Linked DNA regions of Homo sapiens. The protein of the gene in region 1 purifies or fractionates together with the protein of each later gene. This does not show direct contact. Each region holds a gene or a part of one and is shown in the gene's direction. Other genes may lie near its edges.

The links.
Region 2: the proteins of NGEF (region 1) and MRS2 purify together in Homo sapiens (affinity purification with mass spectrometry; 2 studies listed by BioGRID and IntAct, with this or other methods). This does not show direct contact.
Region 3: the proteins of NGEF (region 1) and ACTR10 purify together in Homo sapiens (affinity purification with mass spectrometry; 2 studies listed by BioGRID and IntAct, with this or other methods). This does not show direct contact.

What each region holds. Positions count from the first base shown.
Region 1 is NC_000002.12:233,010,197-233,017,395, reverse strand, and holds the start of NGEF (ephexin-1), read left to right. Parts: upstream 1-4,139; 5' UTR 4,140-4,328; exon of another isoform or gene 4,329-4,782; intron 4,783-7,199. UniProt on the Homo sapiens protein: Acts as a guanine nucleotide exchange factor (GEF) which differentially activates the GTPases RHOA, RAC1 and CDC42. Plays a role in axon guidance regulating ephrin-induced growth cone collapse and dendritic spine morphogenesis.
Region 2 is NC_000006.12:24,405,858-24,412,969, forward strand, and holds part of MRS2 (magnesium transporter MRS2 homolog, mitochondrial isoform b precursor), read left to right. Parts: intron 1-2,550; coding exon 2,551-2,587; intron 2,588-3,603; coding exon 3,604-3,716; intron 3,717-4,869; coding exon of another isoform or gene 4,870-4,942; intron 4,943-6,364; coding exon 6,365-6,538; intron 6,539-7,112. UniProt on the Homo sapiens protein: Magnesium transporter that mediates the influx of magnesium into the mitochondrial matrix and regulates magnesium metabolism. Also permeable to calcium, sodium and potassium ions.
Region 3 is NC_000014.9:58,203,119-58,210,230, forward strand, and holds part of ACTR10 (actin-related protein 10), read left to right. Parts: intron 1-4,817; coding exon 4,818-4,900; intron 4,901-5,880; coding exon 5,881-5,989; intron 5,990-7,112. UniProt on the Homo sapiens protein: Part of the dynactin complex that activates the molecular motor dynein for ultra-processive transport along microtubules.

The sequences.
Region 1 (7,199 bases):
ATTGAATTACATATTTACATTACAAAAAATATATATGCAGCATTTCTGTATGTTCCAGAAAATTTATGGGATCTCGGGAAAGCTTTAACCCCTTTAGATCTGGCTTCCTCATCCTAAGACTGTAGGGAAGATTAAACATGTTAATCCTTGTAAAGCACTTAGAACAGTGCCTGGTTCACAAGTACTCAGTAGGTGTTTTGATAAGTATTCCTGCTTCTGTTCAGTTCTTTTTCTTAACCAGGCCTGGTCCATCATCTTTATATATTTAAATTTTACTTTTCAAATAACCAAAACAATAACAATTAAAACATTTAGATTCTTCTCCTCTTCCCACCCCTTAAAGCAAACTTAACATGAGAAGGTATTTTATCATCTTAAAAAAAAAGTCTTATAATGAATTAAACTCATTATATTAATTATTCAATTCCTACAAATGCAAAATTATGAAAATTCCTTTGAAACAATTGGCTTATGACTACTAAGCTCATTAATGATCTATCAAAATTATCACTCAGAAAAGCATCACAAAAGCTTCGGGTCAAGGACACCCCAGGCCCTGAAAGGGATTTCTCAGTACCATCCCAGAATATTTCTATAGCACAACAGCCGACAGCCATTAAAAACAGTGAAGAACTTCAAAGTGTGCTAAATTGGAAAACCACCAAAACAGTAATACAGAACAGAACATACATGTTGAGATCCTGCCTAAGTAAAACAAAGGATATAGGTGTGTGTGTGTGTGTGTGTGTGTGTGTGTGTGTGTGTATGCACACAGACATGCAAGGGAGAGAGAGAGAGAGGGAGAGAGAGGCAGGGAGGTAGAGATTATGTATATATAGAACATTTCTGGAAGAACACTCATAAAACTGTTAACGTAGGTTATATAAAATGTTTTTGAGCAAGAAAGTGACAAGATCAGATCTGTGTCAGCAGATTCACATGGCTACTGAGTGGGATGGGGTGCTGAGGGCTGGAAGCAATTGGGAGAGACTGAAGCCAAGAGACCCATTTAAAGGACATTGCAATTGTCAGGTAGGAGTTGATGGGGGCCTGTTCTGAGGCAGTGAGATAGAGCAAAGGACAAAAAAGGAAATTAGATTCACTTTAGAAAGCCACCCAATTGCAGCCCCAGGGCCTAGCACAGTACCTACTGGTACTAGGTGCTCAATAGGAAAGAAATGGTCTCCTGCGTGAAAGACTTATAATTTTAATTTTCAAAGTCATCCCACTGGGCACCTGAACATGACAACCCCACTGGCCCCTTCACCCTCTTCTCACGAGTTCATTCCCTCAGCCCTGGGCCTGGGGAGCTGGGTTGTGGGGACAGGTCCACAGGCAGGTGAGTCCAGGGCTCAGGCCTCTACCTGTGCCCCTTGCTGGCCCTGCCCACCCAGGAGGTCCCTGCTGCATCCCCATGGTCCCACTCAGATCTATTCCTACACGCACACACACACACACACACACACACACACACACACACACACCCGCTACAAACACTTACATTTAGGAATTGCTTAAAATATATATTTTTAATGAGTGAAACAATGGAAGAGAGTGAGCAGAAGGATGAGGGTCTCATAAGTGTGGCATCTGATGATAGGTTGCAGGAAACAGCCAAAATTCCCAGAAGACAGAGCACTCAGCGGACACCTCTTCAACCTCGGCATGCAGGAAGGCTCTGTTGGAAGGCTTTGGTGGCAAGGGACAGAGAGGGGAAAGAGGGAGTTAATGCACTTATTTTAATATCTCTTGAGCCTAATGCGGGATCTGGTTTATAGTGCCCTGCTCAAATGTTTGTTGAATGAATGAAGGAAAGGTTGGATAAATGGGTGGATGGCTGGGTGGATGGCTGGATGGATATATGGGTAAATGGATGAGTGGATGGATGGATGGTGGATGGATAGATGGATGGGTGGATGGGTGGATGGATGGCTGGATGGATATATGGGTAAGTGGATGAGTGGATGGATGGATGGTGGATGGATAGATGGATGGGTGGATGGGTGGATGGATGGGTGGATGACTGGATGGGTGGATGGGTGGATGGATGAATGGGTGGGTGGATGGGTGGATGAGTAGATGGATGGGTAGATGGATGTGTGGATAAGTGGGTGGATGTGTGGATGAGTGGGTGGATGAATGGATGAGTAGGTGGGTGGGTGGATTGGTGGGTGGATGGGTGGGTGGATGGATGGATAGATGGTGGGTGGATGGATGGATGGGTGAAGGGATGGATGGTGGATGGATGGATGGTGGATGGATGGGTGGATAGATGGATGGGTGGATGGGTGGATAGATGGATGGGTGGATGGGTGGATAGATGGATGGGTGGATGGATGAATGGGTGGGTGGATGGGTAGTTGAGTAGATGGATGGGTAGATGAATGGGTGGATGAGTGGGTGGATGAATGGATGAGTAGATGGTTGGGTAGATGAATGGGTGGATGAGTGGGTGGATGAATGGATGAGTAGATGGTTGGGTGGATGGATGGATGGATGGATGGATGGATGGATGGATGGATGGATGGTTGGATGGATAGATGGTGGGTGGATGGATGGATGGAAGGGTGGGTGGATGGATGGGTGGGTGGATGGAAGTGTGGATGGGTGGATGGATGGGTGGATGGGTGGATAATGGATGGATGGATGGGTGGATGGATGGGTGGATGGGTGGATGATGGATGGATGGGTGGATGGATGGTGGATGGATGGATGGACGGATGGATGGGTGGATGGGTGGATGGATGGGTGGATGGGTGGATGGATGGGTGAGAGAATAGATGAGAGACTACTTCAATCTGGCTTTCAGGGACAAAACTGAAACCCATGTTTTGTGGCAATCAGATGGCTGTGGGAACTTTCAAAGATGGCCCTCAGGGACCCCCACCCCTGGTATTGTGCCCTGTGTAATCCCCTACCTTTGAGTGTAGGCTGTGCCTGATGACTTCCTTCTAACGAGTAGAATATGCCAGAAGTGATGGAATATCACATCCTTGAGTATATTACAAAAGACTGACCTACCTCTTCCCAGACTCTCTCCATAGCCCTCTCTGATGCAACGAGCTGCCAGGGCGGAGAGGCCCACATGGCAAAGGACTGATAGTGGCCACAGCTGACAGCTGAGAGGGGCTGAGGCCTTCATCCTACAGCCCTAAGAAACTGAATCCTGCCAACACCAGCAGCTTGGAAGTGGATCCCCCCTAGTGGAGCCATGAGATGAGACCTCAGCCCCTCCAACACTTGGATGGCAACTTATGAGAAACCCTGAGCAGAGAACCCAGCCAAGCAGTGCCCAGACTTCTAGCCACAGAAACTGAGATGACAAATGAGTGTTATTTCAAGCCACACACTTTGAGTTAATTTGTTTCCAGAACAGATAGCTAAAACAAACGCTGATTTGAGTTTTATATAAAGATGGATGATGTAGCAATTAAACTTGGCAAATGATGGTAGTGGTTTTGATACTAGTTGGCTTGGGTTTGAATCCTGGATCCCCAACTTACTAGCTGTGGGGCTTTGAGCAAGATGATCAATTTCTTGAGCCTCTGTTTCTGCATCTTTAAAATGGGCATGATTCTCTGGTCATAGTGACAACACAAGGATTACATAGATTATGTAATGTACTTAGCCCAGTGCCTGTCATGTAGTAAGCACTGGATTAAAGGAAGCTATTAGAGGGAATAATAATAATAATAATAATAATAATAATAATAATAATAATGGAGCAAGATGCCTTACAAAGCAGTGAGTGTTCCATGCCTGGAAGTGATTGAGTTAAGGCCAGATGGCCATGGCAGGAAGTGACTAGAACCCTGGAGGACCCCAAAGCCTCTCCCAAATCTCAGATTTGAGGGCCGTGCAGCTGGCTTGGCCAATGCTTGGGGTTGGTGGGCCAGCTGAGCCACGGGCCCCTCTTGGTGTGACCATCAGCATTATCTTGCACTGGGCGGGCGGCGGGTATTCCAGCCATGCCCAGCCTTCCCCTCAGATAGCCCTTCCCTCCTGCACCACTTTTGTGTCAGGTATGTGGCTGCCACCCTGGCTCAACCCATGGGGCCCAGGAAGGTAAACACCCAGCCGGGAAGTGATCGTTATGGGCTCGTGGCCAGCTATGGGCCAAGGCAGGTCTAAAGGTCGGGAATGCTTACCAGTGAAGCTTTTCCAGGACAGGACGAAGTTTTTGGCTGTGGGCTCTCTGGGACAGAGTGGAGCGCCTGTGGATTTAGCCGGGGACACACCATCCTGCTCGCAGGTGCCTGGACAGGACAGGGGACGAGGGAGGAACACTCTCTGAGGAAGCCCAACTCCTATGAGCTCCTCTCTGGCAGGTGAGAGAATGGTTTTGGTATTTTTTAAAAAAATAAAATGAGATAAAACAAGAGAAGGAACAGAGGCTACCGCTAGGACAGGTAGGAAAGGAGATTACCACCCATCCATTCACTGAGGAGGAGCCCCCAAGAGAAACAGCAGCCCTGGATTCCACCCGAGGGATCCTGTCTGGTCTCGGCTTCAGCACTGCCCCTCCTGGCACTCAGTTTCACCATCTGGGAATCAGGATAAGGACTCCTTCCAGGCGCTCTTCCATTATGGCTGTGGGGTAAGTGAGATCAAAAGCAGGAATGGCTGCATAATTGCAGGGCCCTGTGCAATATAAAAATGCAGGGCCCCTTGTTAAAATAGTAAGGCTTTCAAAAGGACAACAACACAGCATTAAAGCAAGCCGGGGCACCTTCTAAGAACAGGGCCCTGTGACTGCCCAGGCCCCACACCCACGACGCCAGTCCTGATAATGAGCGTATATGTAAACGGAAGTGCCCTGATTCCTGTGTGCCATGGCACAAATCTCAGGGTCAGGAAGTGCACTTGGGAAACAGAAGTCATAGTCGTGAAGTGACAGCCCACTGCGCTTTAGCTCCCCCAGCACTGCCCCCTCCGCTCAGGGGCCCCTTTCAGAAAGACAGAAGGCCCTACCCCTCAGAACCTTCCTGATTTTTGCATCTGGCTGGCCTCAAGCCACAGCACGGTGTGACTGAAATGTGTAGGGACACAGTTTTCTTGGATGTGAAAGTGGTAGGTTCTTATTGTCTATCTTGATTTAAAATTTGGGACAGTCACACAGTCTCTGGCTGTGTAGAGGTGGGACTTGTGTTTCCTGGGCTCGTGACAGCTCTGCTATGTTCCATTGACTATCAGTGTATTTCTGCTTTTTGGGAAAATCCTTAATGCAATAAGGCCACTGGTGGGAATGTTCCAGCTTGGACACTTGCCATGTGTCTTTGTCCTCCCTGCCCCTTCTCTCTTTCTCTCTCTCTCTCTCTCTTTTTCCATTTAGGCTTCCCCTTTGCCCATGTCTCAGGCTGCCCCTTGGCACTGCTTAGCTCTGAGGAAGTAGAAGCCAGGGTCCCCTTGGGGGTCAAGCTTTCTGGTCCATGAAGGGAGACCACAGACCACCTCCCTCCACCGCACTCTCCTCCCACATCCCTTTCTGGAGCCCAAATTGTCATGGGAACCCCTCCCAGGGAGGGGATCCCCACAGGAAAGCCAGGGGTTGATCCAATGACAGTGTGAGTAACATTCCACAGCTTTCTGCCCCAGTGGGGCTGGGGACACAGATGAGGCTAGACATGGGGGAAGATGAATTGCTTTAAGAAGAGCTGATGCATGCCTGTAGTCTCAGCCACTCAGGAGGCAGAGGCAGGAGGGCTGCTTGAGCCCAGAAGTCATGCGGTGGGCTATGATCATATCACTGCATTCCAACCTGGGCAACCTGGCAAGACTCTGTCTCTGTTCCTTTTTTTTTTTTTTTTTCATTGCTTTAAGAACTTCCCTTGGCCTGTGGGAGACCGGAAGCTTGTACCAGTAACAAAATAGCCCAGATGTTGTGGGGCCACCCAGAGCCTCTCAGAGGAGACCAAACCTAACCACCCAAGCCTGCTGGCTCTACCAGGGGCGCAGGAGCTGCTGTTTGTCCCAAGAAGCTGGTGAGCCACCAGCACCAAGTCGGACATCCCGTCTCCCAAGATGACGTCCCTTCCCCATCTACATGGGCCCATTGCTTCCCGAGTAAGGAGTCAGCTCTGATGCTCTGAAGTCACCCCCCAGCACAACCCCAATGGCAAAAATTCCTTTACTCCTTCATAGATAATTGCTGTGCACAGTGTATGTGTGAGGCTTTGAAGTGGGGCTGGGGACACAGATGGGACAATGGTGGCCCTCAGGCTAGTGGAGATGAAGCGATGCTGTGTCCCACACCCCCGAGGCCAGGCCAGAAACCCCGCTTGGTGAAAAGAGCACACCAGCCCTCTCACCCCAACAACGGTGATAGGATCCTGAGGCTGAGAGGCACCGTGGCCCAGCGGAGCAGGGGGTTCCATCTCTGAGCCTGGATGGGCTGCCTCTTTTCAGACCCCCCTTCTCCCCGCACCTAAGCCCCCTCTGCTACCATGATGGTGTCTTCAGGAGGCTGCTGGGCCTCAGGAAAAATTCCTTCCCTTGGCCTGGGACCACCTCTCCCCACCTTGGGAGAGGTCAGACCAGGGGGTGGAATTCTGCCTCCAGACTGGAGGACCCACCCCAGAAGGCTGAGGACTTCAGCCTTACTCCTCCTCCCTTTGTTTGGCAGCCATCCTGGAGGCCAGGGCCGTGGGAGACCACATGGGGTCTGAGCACTGAGGAGGGGCCATTTGCTGGAGCACCCTCTGTGGGCTGCTTTTGGGAAACTAGCTCAGGTGGTTGATTAAGGACCTGGGAGCCTGGGTGAGGCCATCTCACAATCTTCCTGCCTCAACTCACTTTGCCTGTGGACAAGGAAAAAAAAAAATCACACGTTCAAATGAGGAGGATGGGCACCATCAAAGGGATGGATGATCAGCAAGGCCTGCATGGAGGAGGTGGCCTCTGAGCTGGCCATCATTCAACAATCTTCCATCACTTATTAATGATTTTCCAGGAGGAGGAGAAGAACTGGGGGTGTGGTTTGATGTATTATAAAGCAAGCATTACTACCTTGAAAATAAGGTAGTAATTCTTTTCACACTCACTCAGAATGAATGCTCCAGGTTCTCTAAATAGCATACGTTCACAGATAGCACATTCCAGGTGAAGGGACAGCAGGGTTTTAGCAAAAGGGAGGGAGCCCTGCAGTAAGGGTTGGGCCAGTGGAGGCAGAGACAGGGGAGGCATGAGGTCTGTTTAAAAGA
Region 2 (7,112 bases), on another chromosome or scaffold:
CACTTTGGGAGGCCGAGGTGGGCAGATCATGAGGTCAGGAGATTGAGACCATCCTGGCTAACACAGTGAAACCCCATCTCTACTAAAAATACAAAAAATTAGCCAGGCCTGGTGGTGGGCGCCTGTAGTCCCAGCTACTTGGGAGGCTGAGGCAGGAGAATGGCATGAACCCAGGAGGCGGAGCTTGCAGTGAGCCTGGATCATGCCACTGCACTCCAGCCTGGCAGACAGAGTGAGACTCCATCTCAAAAAAAAAAAAAAAAAGGTGTGCCTATTCTGAGCCAGACTTCCTAAATTCCAATCTCACTCTGCCTCTTATTGACTAGGTGGCCTTGGACAAGTTACAATAACATCTTTGTGCCTTAGTTTTCTCATCTGAAAACTGAGCATAACCTACCATATAGAATTGTTATGAGGATTAAATTAACTCATATATAGAAAGCCCTTAAACTAGTGCCTCACATATAGTAAGCCTCAAATATATTTCATTAGGATTATTTAGGCTTGTTAACATAAGAGCTTTTCTTTATAAACTATATAAAATTAAATAACCCCCAGAATTGCGTTTAAAAGTTACCACTGTTATTCATTGTTCTGGAAGAGTTGGCCAATTTAGTTAAGAATACAAAATCAGGGCCAGGCACGGTGGCTCACGCCTGTAATCCCAACACTTTGGGAGGCTGAGGTGGGCATATCATTTGAGGTCAGGAGTTTTAGACCAGCCTGACCAACATGGTGAAACCCCGTCTCTACTAAAAAACAAAAAAATTAGCCAGGCGTGGTGGTGCACGCCTGTAGTCCCAGCTACTCAGGAGGCTGAGGCAGGAGAATCGCTTGAACCTGGGAGGTGGAGGTTGCAGTGAGCCAAGATTGCACCACTGCACTCCAGCCTGGGCAACAGAGCAAGACTCTGTCTCAAAAAAAGAATACAAAGTCAAACGTGAAATACTGAAAGTTAGTTCTTTGCAGGTGAAATAATTGCAAAGAACACTTAAGAAATTCATAAAGCTATGGAATCTGAGAAAGAAAAATTTAATTTGTGCTGTTTGAAATAGTTTAGAAAGTGAGCTGGTTACAAAGTAAATATTTTTTTCTTTATAATTTGTATGATTTAAAAAATTTTTTTAAGTTCCATTAAAGAAAAAAAGGGTACATATAAATATTGAGATGCAAAAATATTCAGCATATGTTGCTAATTTGGAAGGAGGGAGACTGCAAAGCAGTATGTATAAGTATGTTTTATTAGGAAAATGTTTGGAAGGATATTCAGTGAAATATTGACATGGTTTTCTCTAAAATTTGTCATTTCAGGTGATTAATATAGTTTTATGTTACGTATATTTATTTTCAAATTTTCTGCAGTGGGTTTATGTATTTGTGAAATATAAGGCTGAAAGCTAGACTATTACACAAATATAAAGCTTTCTTTGATATAAATTTTCCTTTAATGTTCTATGGAACTTATATATTCATATTAATTTTATTTTTGCTGATGAGAAGCAAGATAAAATATATATATTGTGAGTTTTTATTGTGTGATTAACACAGCATGTATATTTCCATGGTAGTAACCCAAGACCTATATTGTACTTAAACCTGTATGTTGGAGTGTCTTTCTGAAATGTGTCTGTCGTAGTAAGTAGTACAGCTCAGCACATAGTGATTCATTAAATGTTTCACAGCTTCAAACTTGACTGTGGATAAACATCACTGAAAGATAGTCCCCTACTTTGCAGGAAATAGGTGCATTTTCTGTATCAAATCCTCTCTTCAAACTATCAGAAGGGGTTCTGTAAATCTTTATTGATTCTGCAACACCCACCAAAGAGACTTTGGCCTCATGTAGACATTTAGATTCACAAGGCGGGCCATACTTGGTCCCAGTCTACTCAGAAGGATAAGGGACAGGAGAAACAACAGGGTAGTGTTAGGTGTTTCCTCTTCAAAAGAAGTCTTTGCAGCCATCCAGGGGCTTCTCTGGTCCTCTGAGTGATCGCTCAGTGACAAGGAGATAAGATTCTCAAAGGTGGATGTGAGATTCATCTTGGCTCGAATCCCCATGCCCCGTAGTGACAGTATCCCTTGTAACCATCGCAGGGGCACAGTGTCCAGGATTCTGGCTGGGAACATGGCCACAAGAGCCACCACAATCAGGAAAGGGCAAAGAGAGCTATTGCTTTTCACCTGATAACTGTAATTTGTTCGTCTTCCCAGTCCAGTGCAGTCTACCAGTCAATGGTCATTTTTACCATAAGGATTGTTACCTAGTAACAACACAACTGATACTCCTTTATCAACTTTCTAGAGGAACCAAGATAGAAAGTTAAACCCAGGTCTGATTTTTCCTATCAAAGGAAAAAAGGATTTTAAAAAAACCCTTAACTCATAACTGGATTTAATCTAAAGAAGGTCAGTAATGGTTTATATTTGCATTTCAACATTTTGGGGATATTACTTACAATACCATAAATTCTTAACTAAATTAGCAATACCATAAGTAGCATTCTAATTTGAAAGAAAATCATAATTTGTTTTATTCTCTATTTTCAGACAAAATTTGACAAACAGGGAAACGTTACTTCTTTTGGTGAGTGATTAGCATTCTAAATCATTTTTTAAACATTTAATGAGTGAATCTGATAGAAATCAAGAAATTGTAGTATTTTGAGTAAAATATTCTTTGCATATACAGGTGTGTTGAAAGAGATCTTTCTTCAGCATTTGTCCATCAGTCTTAATTGGAGCTGGCAATACTCAGACTGTGTGTATTCTCCCAGAATTGTTTTCTTCTAGCAGGAGCCACTTTTTGCTCTAACAGGCTATTGAAGGAATATTTGGGAGAGCAGAGGCTGGTGTAGAACTGGAGCCCAGAGACACACTCTTTTTCTCTTTTGTCTCTCTTGTTGGCGTCCCTTTCACTGCCCTCATTCATTCTCCTGAAGCATGTTTAAGGCAGAGTCACATAATACCACTGACATTGCAGTGGGTGACAAAAGATGAACAGGGCCATGTCACTGCATGGCAGCCACATGGAACTCTGCTGCTGATGGCTCTCTGTGGACAGCTACTTTAAAAAGTGAGACTAGGCATTACTTTACAGTGTGACTTCAGATGTGAGTTTCACATCTCCCTTGAGAATGAATCAGTCTCAGGTAATAAATTCAGCTTTTCTCATTTTTGTATTAGTCTAAGAACAAAGAAAATCAAGCTTATCTGTTCACATATATAAAATACTGAAGATGATGTTGTAGTAAAAATAGAAAATATAGTTGTGTACAGTTTATATTTAAGAGAGATAACCTGTCTCTAGAGCTGGACATTTATAGGTTCTAATGATGCATAGTTGTGGTTTCTGTATTAGTCTCAAGGGTCTTCTAAGTAGTGAGAAAGTTATGAGGTATAGATAAGAAAATCATTAGTTTGACTCTATTTAGCCCGAGTATGTTTTCTAGGTAAAAATGGATATTAAAAGACTTAATTTTAGTTTTTGTTTCTGGTAGTAACCAAAAATTGTCTTGATGGTGGTGGGAGGACTGCTCTGATGGAAAAATCTAAGCCATTTAATGTATTTGGTTTAGCCCTCTCTGTTTATTTCTTTTATAGAAAGGAAGAAAACTGAATTATACCAAGAGTTAGGTCTTCAAGCCAGAGATTTGAGATTTCAGCATGTAATGAGTATCACAGTCAGAAACAATAGGATTATCATGAGAATGGAGGTAAAATATTTTATTTTCATCTATGTTTCTCCAATACAATCTTATAAAAGTTACCTTCTAACTATCTTGATTAGTATCTAGGTTAAAAGTAATTTTGGAATAGAAATAGCTACCTGAAACATAGGATGTTTTATAGCTTAATATGCTATTATGAGTAGAACTCATTTTATATGGATTATATGCACATGTTCAATAGGCATAACACTGCTGTGTTTTAAGTTGGAAAAGCTCTGACTGTGGTGTTCATTCTCACTGTTGGGATTTACTCTCTAGTTCTGGAAACTATAAGACAATCCTGATTTATAATAGATATATATCCAATTGTGTACAGTTACATGTAATTATAGTATAACCTGAGCTACCAAAAATGTATTCTGGCTTTCTAAATAGCACAGGAATAGACATTAAATTTTATAGCCTTAATTTTTTTTTTGAGATGGAGTTTTGCTCTTGTTGCCCAGGCTGGCACGATCTTGGCTCACTGCAACCTCCACCTCCCAGGTTCAAGCAATTCTCCTGCCTCAGCCTTCTGAGTAGCTGGGATTACAGGCATAAGCCACCAAACCCAGCTAATTTTGTATTTTTAGTAGACATGGGGTTTCTCCATGTTGGTCAGGCTGCTCTGAAACTCCCGACCTCAGGTGATCCACCTGCCTCTGCCTCCCAAAGTGCTGGGATTACAGGCATGAGCCACCGTGCCTGGCCAGTTTAAATTTTTTTAATGGAAAACTTTCTGAAATATATTGTATTTTCCCTTACCTATTCAGAGCATGCCAAATAATAATTTGACTTTCTTTAGTGATTCAGAGTTAATGTGGGTTTCAGTTATTTTGGTGGGCTAATGTTTAGGTTCAAAAATAGATGAATGGTATTGGCCCTGTAGTGGGTATGAGACTTTCTTCAAAGAGTCTTTGATGGCAGATTTTTGTTCATTTTTCTAGAACTAATCAAAATAATAAAAAATGGGCCAGTATTGGTAGCATGTGCCTTTAGTCCCAGCTACTCAGGAGGCTGAAGTGGGAGGGTCACCAGAGACCAGGAGTTTGTGACCAGCCTAAGCAACATAGCAAGATCCCATCTCTAAAAATAAATAAGTAAATAAAAAATACTTTATCAAAAATGAAGCAGTCTTCTCCCATGTGATTTTCTTCAGAAATATTCTCTACTCTTGGAATCAGTAGCTAGCATTCTTCAAAACAGTGTCTCTTTCATGGAGAGACAGACAGGTATGTGAAAAAGCAAATTCAGCAGAATGATAATTGTGTAATCTAACTGGTGGGTATATGGTGTTCACTGCAATCTTTCAACTTTTCTGTATAAAAATTTTCATGAGGCTAGGTTGTGGTGGCTCACATCTGTAATCCCAGCACTTTGGGAGGCCGAGAGGGGTGGATCACCTGAGGTCAGGAGTTCGAGACCAGCCTGACCAACATGGTGAAACCCCGTCTCTACTAAAAAATACAAAAATTAGCCAGGCATGGTGGCGGGTGCCTGTAATTCCAGCTACTCAGGAGGCTGAGGTAGGAGAATAGCTTGAACCCTGAAGGTGGAGGTTGCAGTGAGCCGAGATTGCCCCACTGCACTCCAGCCTGGGTGACAGAGCAAGACTTCCATCTCAAAAAAAAAAAAGAAAAAAAAATTCATGATAGAATGTTGGAAAAATGTAAAAATAGAAAATTATCTCTAATTTCTATATCACTGATAAAGTGGCTACCTTTATCTACTTTTAACATACAAGATAACCAGTCTTTTTAGAAAAAATTCTAATTTCATATTGTTCTAAATTAGAGTAGTAAGGCTATGTTTCATCTTAATTTCAGATTTTGTTTATATGCTTTAGTGGTGTTTTAAAAAGGAAACTTCCATTTGTGCCAAACTAATTATGATTAAACTAAATCTTTTCTAAAAGTCTGCTCAATACCTGACTTTTAGGAAGACCTTATCTTGTTCCCTTTATTTATTTATTTATTTTTTCCAAAAAAGAAAGACGGAGTCTCGCTCTGTCGCCAGGCTGGAGTGCAGTGGCACAATCTCAGCTCACTGCAAACTCCGCCTCCCAGGTTCAAGCGATTCTCCTGCCTCAGCCTCTGAAGTAGCTGGGACTACAGGTGTGGGCCACCACGCCTAACTGATTTTTGTATTTTTAGTAGAGACGGGGTTTCACCATGTTGGCCAGGATGGTCTCGATCTCTTGACCTCATGATCCACCTTCCTCAGCCTCCAAAAGTGCTGGGATTACAGGCATGAGCCACCATGCCCGGCTTTCTGGGGGTATTTTTTGGTGTTTTTTTTTTTGTTTTTGTTTTTTTTTCATGATTACCCCAGAAGTCTTAGTAAATATATAATTTATGTGAATAATTCCAGTTTTATTGAGAGTGAGTTAGCAGTATCAAGACATATATTTTTTAAGTTTCTTTTCTTTTGAAAAAAAAAACCTTGATTTTTTTGAAAAACAAAAATGAACACTGATTTGGTTTAGTCTTAATCCACAATTAGTAAAGTATTAAACCAAATTTTATGAATGTTCTTTTTTCCTACAGCTCTACAATTTGCATATATATATGTATGTATACATATATATGTATATACATGCATGTGTGTATATACACTCACATATTTATATGTTTTGGTTTTTTTTTTTTTAACAGTATTTGAAAGCTGTGATAACTCCAGAGTGTCTTCTGATATTAGATTATCGTAATTTAAACTTAGAGCAATGGCTGTTCCGGGAACTCCCTTCACAGTTGTCTGGAGAGGGTCAACTCGTTACATACCCTTTACCTTTTGAGTTTAGAGCTATAGAAGCACTCCTGCAATATTGGGTAAGTCTGTTTTTATTTAGCTTCTTGGGTTTATTCTGATTTTGAAATGTCATTGAGTGGGAAGACAAGTTGGGGTATTGTTTCAATGGCATGTCCCCTGACCACATCCTGCCCCGAAACAAGTCGTCTCTAAGGATCCTACATGGAGATATCACTTAATTCTTAAATGTTATGACCCAGTCAAATAGAACTAAAGACTCTATGTATATTATAAAAATGCTTGACATGTGATAATTATTTTATTAAATCATTTCATCAAGTCATTTTTTGATTTGTTTGTACAATCCTTTGTTTGAGCCAGGTAAATGATGCATCTTTTTGAGACCTAGATTGACATAGGAATCACGCACAGTTCTTCCAGTGACTCCTCCTTTAAATTAAGAGTCCTTAGATGTCTGAGACTCCTGTCAGGCTCTAAACAAGGGTGGTTCTCTGCTTCCCTGACCCCACAAATCTTTCATTATCTTTTCTTCCTCCTGTTAAGTCAGGATGGTACTGTTCAGGAACTGGCTACATGCAAGAGTTGGTGCTGGGAGCATACTAACCAGAGTGGGAGGAGGAGAGAGGGTAGAGA
Region 3 (7,112 bases), on another chromosome or scaffold:
TGGTGAAACCCTGTCTCAACTAAAAATACAAAAATTAGCCGGGAGTGGTGGCAGGCACCTCTAATCCCAGCTCCTCAGGGGGCCGAGGCAGGAGAATTGCTTGAACCCGGGAGGCGGAGGTTGCAGTGAGCCAAAATCAAGCCATCGCACTCCAGCCTGGGGGGCAAGAGCAAGACTTCGTCTCAAAAAAAAAAAAAAAAAAAGAAACAAGAAACAGTACTAAATATATACTTTGTGGCTATATTTCCAAGGAAAAGTTTTTCTTTTTAAATCAACTTTATCAAGGTCTAATTTTGCACACCATAAGTATATCATGTTGTACAAGTACCACCACAATCCAGTTTTAGAATGTTTTCATCACCCCAGTAAAATCCCTAATACCCGTTTACAATTAATCCTCATTCCTATCCTCAGCCCATTAGGGTGTACCTTCTGTTTCTATAGATTTGTCTTTTCTGTACATTTTATGTAAATGGAATCATATATCAAGAGAAAAATTTTAACTTCAGTAAAATACTTTTATAAGTCTTATAACCACTGAATTATTTTATTATTTATAATATATCAGATATTTATTCCCTTATTTACAGTTTCAAAACCCAGAGAATTTTGAAAACAAACTTTCAAAAAGTTTCTTGCCACAGCTAATTTGGCAGATTAGAAATTACAACCAGTAGAAAGAATGATTTTGCATGTTATAAAATTCACTTGTTAAAAAATGAGATGTAGCTGTTACCACAGTAACATTATATATGCATTCCAGAAAATACCTTTGTTCTGCAAAATGGTACATTTTTAAAAAACAAAACAAAACAGGCTTATGGGAAAAATAAGCTTGAGGTAGTCCATATAAAACCTGTGTAACTTTGTAATCAGAGGACTAGCAAAAACAATAATTGATGCCTCCACAAAATTTAAATAGGATTGGCAGGCAGCTGAGTGTGGCTGGAGGCTGTCTTAGGGAATATTAAAAATAAAATTGTGGGCTGGGCAGATTACACGCCTGTAATCGCAGCACTTTGGGAGGCCGAGGCGGGCAGATCACGAGGTCAGGAGATCGAGACCATCCTGGCTAACACAGTGAAAACCCATCTCTACTAAAAAAAAAAAAAAAAATTAGCCAGGCATGGTGGCAGGCACTGGTATTCCCAGCTACTTGGGAGGCTGAGGCAGGAGAATGGCGTGAACTCGGGAGGCGAAGCTTGCAGTGAGCCGAGATTGCGCCACTGCACTCCAGCCTGGGCGACAGAGCGAGACTCCATCTCAAAAAAATAAAATAAAATAAAATCGTGGAGGTGGTGCGCACCTGTAGTCCCCAGCTACTTGGGAGGCCGAAGTGGGAGGATCACTTGAGCCCAGGAGGTTGAGGCTGCAGTGAGCCAAGATTGCACCACTGCATTCCACCATGGGCGACAGAGTGAGACCCTGTCTCAAAAATAAACAAATAAAAATAAAAGTCATGGATTGAAAATGTTAGCCAGTGGGTTCTGAGTCAGTGCAGATGGTAGCAAGCTCTGAGCCAGTGGGACTGTTATTAAGTAGCAACTAGGAGGAAATGCAACCCAACAGAGTCATGGATCCACTCTGAGGCACGAATTGCTGGTGTAGGGAGTTATTTACACTTTTCTTATGAATAGATCTGAAAGCATATCTACCTGTGTGATAACTGAGTTGATGACTTTCTTTTTCTTGATGAAAGTTATACTTCCATTATAATTATAGCTTGTCTTGCCTAATATTAACTAATACAACTATAACATTTTTCTGACATTATTTCCTTTTTTAGCAATCGCATATAAGCATATTTGGTTTTATAAAAACACATGTTGGCCAGATGCGGTGGCTCACTCCCAGCACTTTGGGAGGCTGAGGCAGGTGGATCACCTGAGGTCAGGAGTTCCAGACCAGCCTAACCAACAAGGAGAAACCCTATCTCTACTAAATATACAAAATTAGCCGGGCATGGTGGCACATGCCTGTTAATCCCAGCTACTCAGGAGGCTGAGGCAGGAGAATCACTTGAACCCGGGAGGTGGAGGTTGTGGTGAGCTGAGATTGTGCCATTGCACTCCAGTCTGGGCAACAAGAGCGAAACTCCATCTCAAAAAAAACAAAAACAAAAACAAAAAAAAACATGTTATAGCAGAATAGACGAGACCAGCAGTTTATATTTGGCATTTACATACATCAGAAATCTTTTTTTTTTTTTTTTTTGAGGCGGAGTCTTGCTCTGTCGCCCAGGCTGGAGTGCAGTAGCATGATCTGGGCTCACTACAAGCCCCACCTCCCGGGTTCATGCCATTCTCCTGCCTCAGCCTCCCGAGTAGCTGGGACTACAGTTGCCCGCCGCCACGCCCAGCTAATTTTTTGTATTTTTTAGTAGAGACGGGGTTTCACCGTGTTAGCCAGAATGGTCTGTATCTCCTGACCTCGTGATCCGCCCGCCTTGGCTTCCCAAAGTGCTGGGGTTACAGGTGTGAGCCACTGCGCTCGGCCCAGAAATCTTTTTAATTACACTTGATTAAGGAATCATTTCATTGATTTTAAATTTTTCTGCAAATCCTTGGACAAGCCAGAAATATGGTAGATATTGGTGGTTTGATGTTCAAAAATGTGATGGAAGCCGGGTGTGGTCTCTCATGCCTGTAATCCCAGCACTTTGGGAGGCTGAGGTGGCCAGATCACTTGAGGCCAGGAGTTTGAGACTAGCCTGGCCAACTTGGTGAAACCCCATCTCTACTAAAAATACAAATATTAGCCAGGTGTAGTGGCAGGCACCTGTGGTCCCAGCTACTCGGGAGGCTGAGGCAGGAGAATCGCTTGAATCTGGGAGGCGGAGGTGGCAGTGAGCTGAGATCATGCCACTGTGCTGCAGCCTGGGCAACAGAGGGAGACTCCATGTCAAAAAAAACGGGGGCGGGGGATGGAAGTTCCTGTTTACTAATTTTTCATGTCATTTTGCTTTATAACAATTGGCATTACTGTGTTACCAGATAGATTTCTTACTGGATTAGACCCTGTACGTTTTTGTTGCCACTTTCCTTGGTGCTTTGAGCTTTTATCTTTTTTTTTTTTGAGATGGAGTCTCACTCCATCACCCAGGCAGGAGTGCAGTATCATGATCTCTGCTCACTGCCACCTCCTCCTCTCGGGTTCAAGCCATTCTCCTCTCTCAGCCTCCCAAGTAGCTGGAATTACAGGCGCCCTCCACCACACCCAGCTAATTTTTTTTTTTTGTATTTTTAGTAGAGACGGGGTTTCGCCGTGTTGGCCAGCCTGGTCTCAAACTCCTGACCTCAGGTGATCCACCCGCCTTGACCTCCCAAAGTGTTGGGATTACAGGCATGAGCCACTGCGCCCGAACGAGTTTTTATCTTCATTTGAAAAGACAGATACCTAAAAAATTATTTATATTTGATTATATATGGTTTGGAATCTTCTTTAAGCCACATAAAATCAAGAAATTAGGCTGATGGTACTTCTTTTGAAAGAGTAAATGAAGAGAGGTCTGCCAATGATGCATCAGAGTACTGAGAGCTTTCTGAGGATCATAAGTGAAGCCATTGTTATATATTAGCATTGACTTAGCACTCATGGCTTGGTAATATGTGTGTAGGCTGCTTTTGTGCTAATGGTGTTTGTTGTCATTTTTATCACACATATTTATGAACAACCACAACTATGTACCTGGAACTGTATTATTTGAAGAAAGATATATCATAAGCAAGCCAGAAATAGTTCTTGTGCATAGAGCTTATAATCTAGCAGAAAGGGGGACATTTTACAAGTAATTCAGTGTGGCGATGTTGCAAAAGAGAAGATATCAGTGTTTTTGGACTAACAGGGACTGAACCAAGTTGAGTATTTGAGGAAGCCTTTGATGCTTTTTATTCAATGCTGAATTTTTTTTTTTTTTTTTTTTTGAGACAGGTTCTCACTCTGTCACCCAGGCTGGAGTGCAGTGGCACGATCTTGGCTCACTGCAACCTCTGCCTCCCTGCAACCTCCACCTCCTGGGTTCAAGCAGTTCTCCCACTTCAGCCTCCTGAGTAGCTGGGACTACAGGTGCACGCCACCACGCCTAGCTAATTTTTGTATTTTTAGTAGAGATAGGGTTTCACCATGTTGGCCAGGCTGGTCTTGAACTCCTAGCTTCAGGTGATCCACCTGCCTCGGCCTCCCAAAGTGCTGGAAATTTGTTTGTTTGTTTGTTTGTTTGTTTTTTGAGACGGAATCTGGTTCTGTTGCCCAGGCTAGAGAGCAGTGGAGCCATCTCAGCTCACTGCAGCCTCCTCCAGGGTTTTCAAGTGATTCTCCTGCCTCAGTCTCCAGAGTAGCTGGGACTATAGGCACACACCACCACGCCTGGCTAATTTTTGTATTTTAAGTAGAGACAGCGTTTCACCATGTTGGCCAGCCTGGTCTCGAACTCCTGACCTCAAGTGATCCATCCACCTCGGCCTCCCAAAGTGCTGGGATTACAGGCATGAGCCACCACACCTGGCCTCAAAGCTGATTTTTATCATTCAAGCCAAAATGATAAGTCAGATGGAGGAAAAATGCATGTGAGCCATGCTCTTTACTTCCTATGAACACACACTTCCATTACCACAGACTAAAACATTCTGCCATCTTAGACATTCCGATTCTTAAGGATTCCTAATTTAAGAGATTACTCTGTATTTAATTTTTATATTCTCAATACAGATTGCTTTTAATTTATTCCCAGAAAATGTATTAGTAAATAATTACATTTTAATCTTAATTTGAGGTTATTTTATTAATATAAATTAATAAATCATTTTAATTTTTTACAGCCTGTCAGAGTTGTTCAGTATAATATCAATACAGAAGAATTATATTCCTACCTAAAGGAATTCATCCACATACTATATTTCAGGTAAGATACATTTTGTTTTCTAGCTTTTATGATTAGATAGATTTTCCTAATGCCATAGTGATAATTGGTTGTGTTACAGCTGAGGCCAAAAAAAAAAAAAATGGACTTCTATTGCCATTTTTACATGCTTATTTTCAACCTTTTCAAAAATATATTTGAAGACTAGAAAACTGGCAGACATAAAGAGATACTGAAAATGAAATATTCATTAATGAAGTGAACTGATAATTAAATTATTCTACATTCATACAGTGAAATACCATGCAGCTCTTTAAAAAGAGTTCTGCATCTGTATGTAGTAGTACAGGAAGGTGTGTGGGATATATTGATAAGTGAAATAAGCAAGTTAAAGAACCACATCTATGGAATGAGTATTTCTGTTAAAACATACCCCCATACATCCATAAGAATGAAAAAAAATACAAACTTCTATCAGTGATAGTTCTGAGTAGTAGAGATATAAGGTTCTTGTACTTTGCAAGTTTTACGTGTCATAATATTTGGAGCTTTGTGAGCATATATTACTATTGTAACCTAAAAAAAAAGAAAATATCGCCAGGTGCTGTGGCTCACATCTGTAGTACCAGCTACTCAGGAGGTTGAGATCAGGGGATGGCTTGAACCCAGGAGGCTGAGGTTGCAGTGAGGTGAGATTGCCCCTCTGCACTCCAACTTGGGCAACAGAGCCAGATCCTGTCTCAAAAAAAAAAAAAAAATCTATATAATGGCTCAAGTTGGTAATCATAGTAGGCTATAATTTTAGGTTTCTGAGATAAGTAAGTTAATGAATTTCCTAGCACACTGCACGGTACATAGTAAGAGGTCAGAAATGTTATCTTTCTGGGGTAATAAAATGAAGATGTCTTTTTGTGATAAAATATCTTAAGCTAAGGTAGTACAGTTTCACTGTTCTTAAATTGTATGACTTAACAAAATGAATAAAAACTTTTACTTTTAAAACCAAAACTTTCACTTTTCAGGCATCTATTGGTGAATCCCAGAGACCGCCGAGTTGTGATTATCGAATCGGTATTATGTCCTTCTCACTTCAGAGAGACACTCACTCGTGTTCTTTTCAAATATTTTGAGGTACCTGTCTTTATATCAAATAAGTAAATTGCTTTTGAAATAAAAAGAGAAGCAATAAAATTCTTACCAATTTTTAGGGAATCTTTCTTCTCTTTTTTTTTGTTGGTAGGTACTCAAAACTTAAACTAATAAAAGCCCTTATTTTGTCTCATATTGTGTATGGCACACAGTGTAGTTGGGGAACCAGATGACAGAAGATTCTTCAAACTGGCCATTTATTTTCTTCCTTTGTGTGGTTATTTCATGCTTTAGCATTTCATCCAACACTTACATAATTGGATATTTCTTTTTATTACTGTTTATTTATTTTAATATAGGTTTTTCTATTTGGGGACTTTTTTTTATTCAGAATTAAAAGGTATATTCTGTGCTGTGGACTTTGCAATGTATTTCTTCCAGATCTTTCTAGCTTCCATTGTTTAGTTGTACTGTTCTGAATTTTGTCATTTTAGGCTTCAAATTCCTTTAAAATGGAATATTCAGTGCCTCCCTTAGAGTAAGTTGGTAATGCCAGGAATGAGACTTACCTCATAATATAAGTAATATTACCTGTAGCTTTGATTTTATAGGAATCAGGATTATTTTATCACCAAGAATATGTTTTAAGATTAGTATATTTCATAGTAGACCAGAATCTTAATTATTCAAATTTTTAAAAATCTTTGCCTTAAAATTTAGGTTTTATCAGCAAGGGAAAATGTAAGATTATATGTATTAAGTGAATAAGAAATTAAGCACATATAAATGTATTTTCATACATTTACTGAATTCAAAACATACCTAATACCAAAAATCACAATGTCTTTATGAGGTAAAGGCACTTAATATTTCTAAGTTATATTTTTGTAAAGCAGGTACAGGGAATCAGGTTGCATAGCCTCCAGTACCTACTGATGTCATGAGTCCAGGAATTTCATTTGTAGTAAGGAGAACATAAAGCAAAACAAGAAGTCGTGTCAGCTGTTATCTGAATAAAGTAGAATATTCTCTGTATTTATAATTAGAGTTTGTGTTAATATCTTCTATATGACTAGAATACCTACTTTATTTAGATAAGGGGAATACAGCCATTATTTTGTCTGCCATTCGATTATGATGGACTGTCATATTTTGATTGAATATC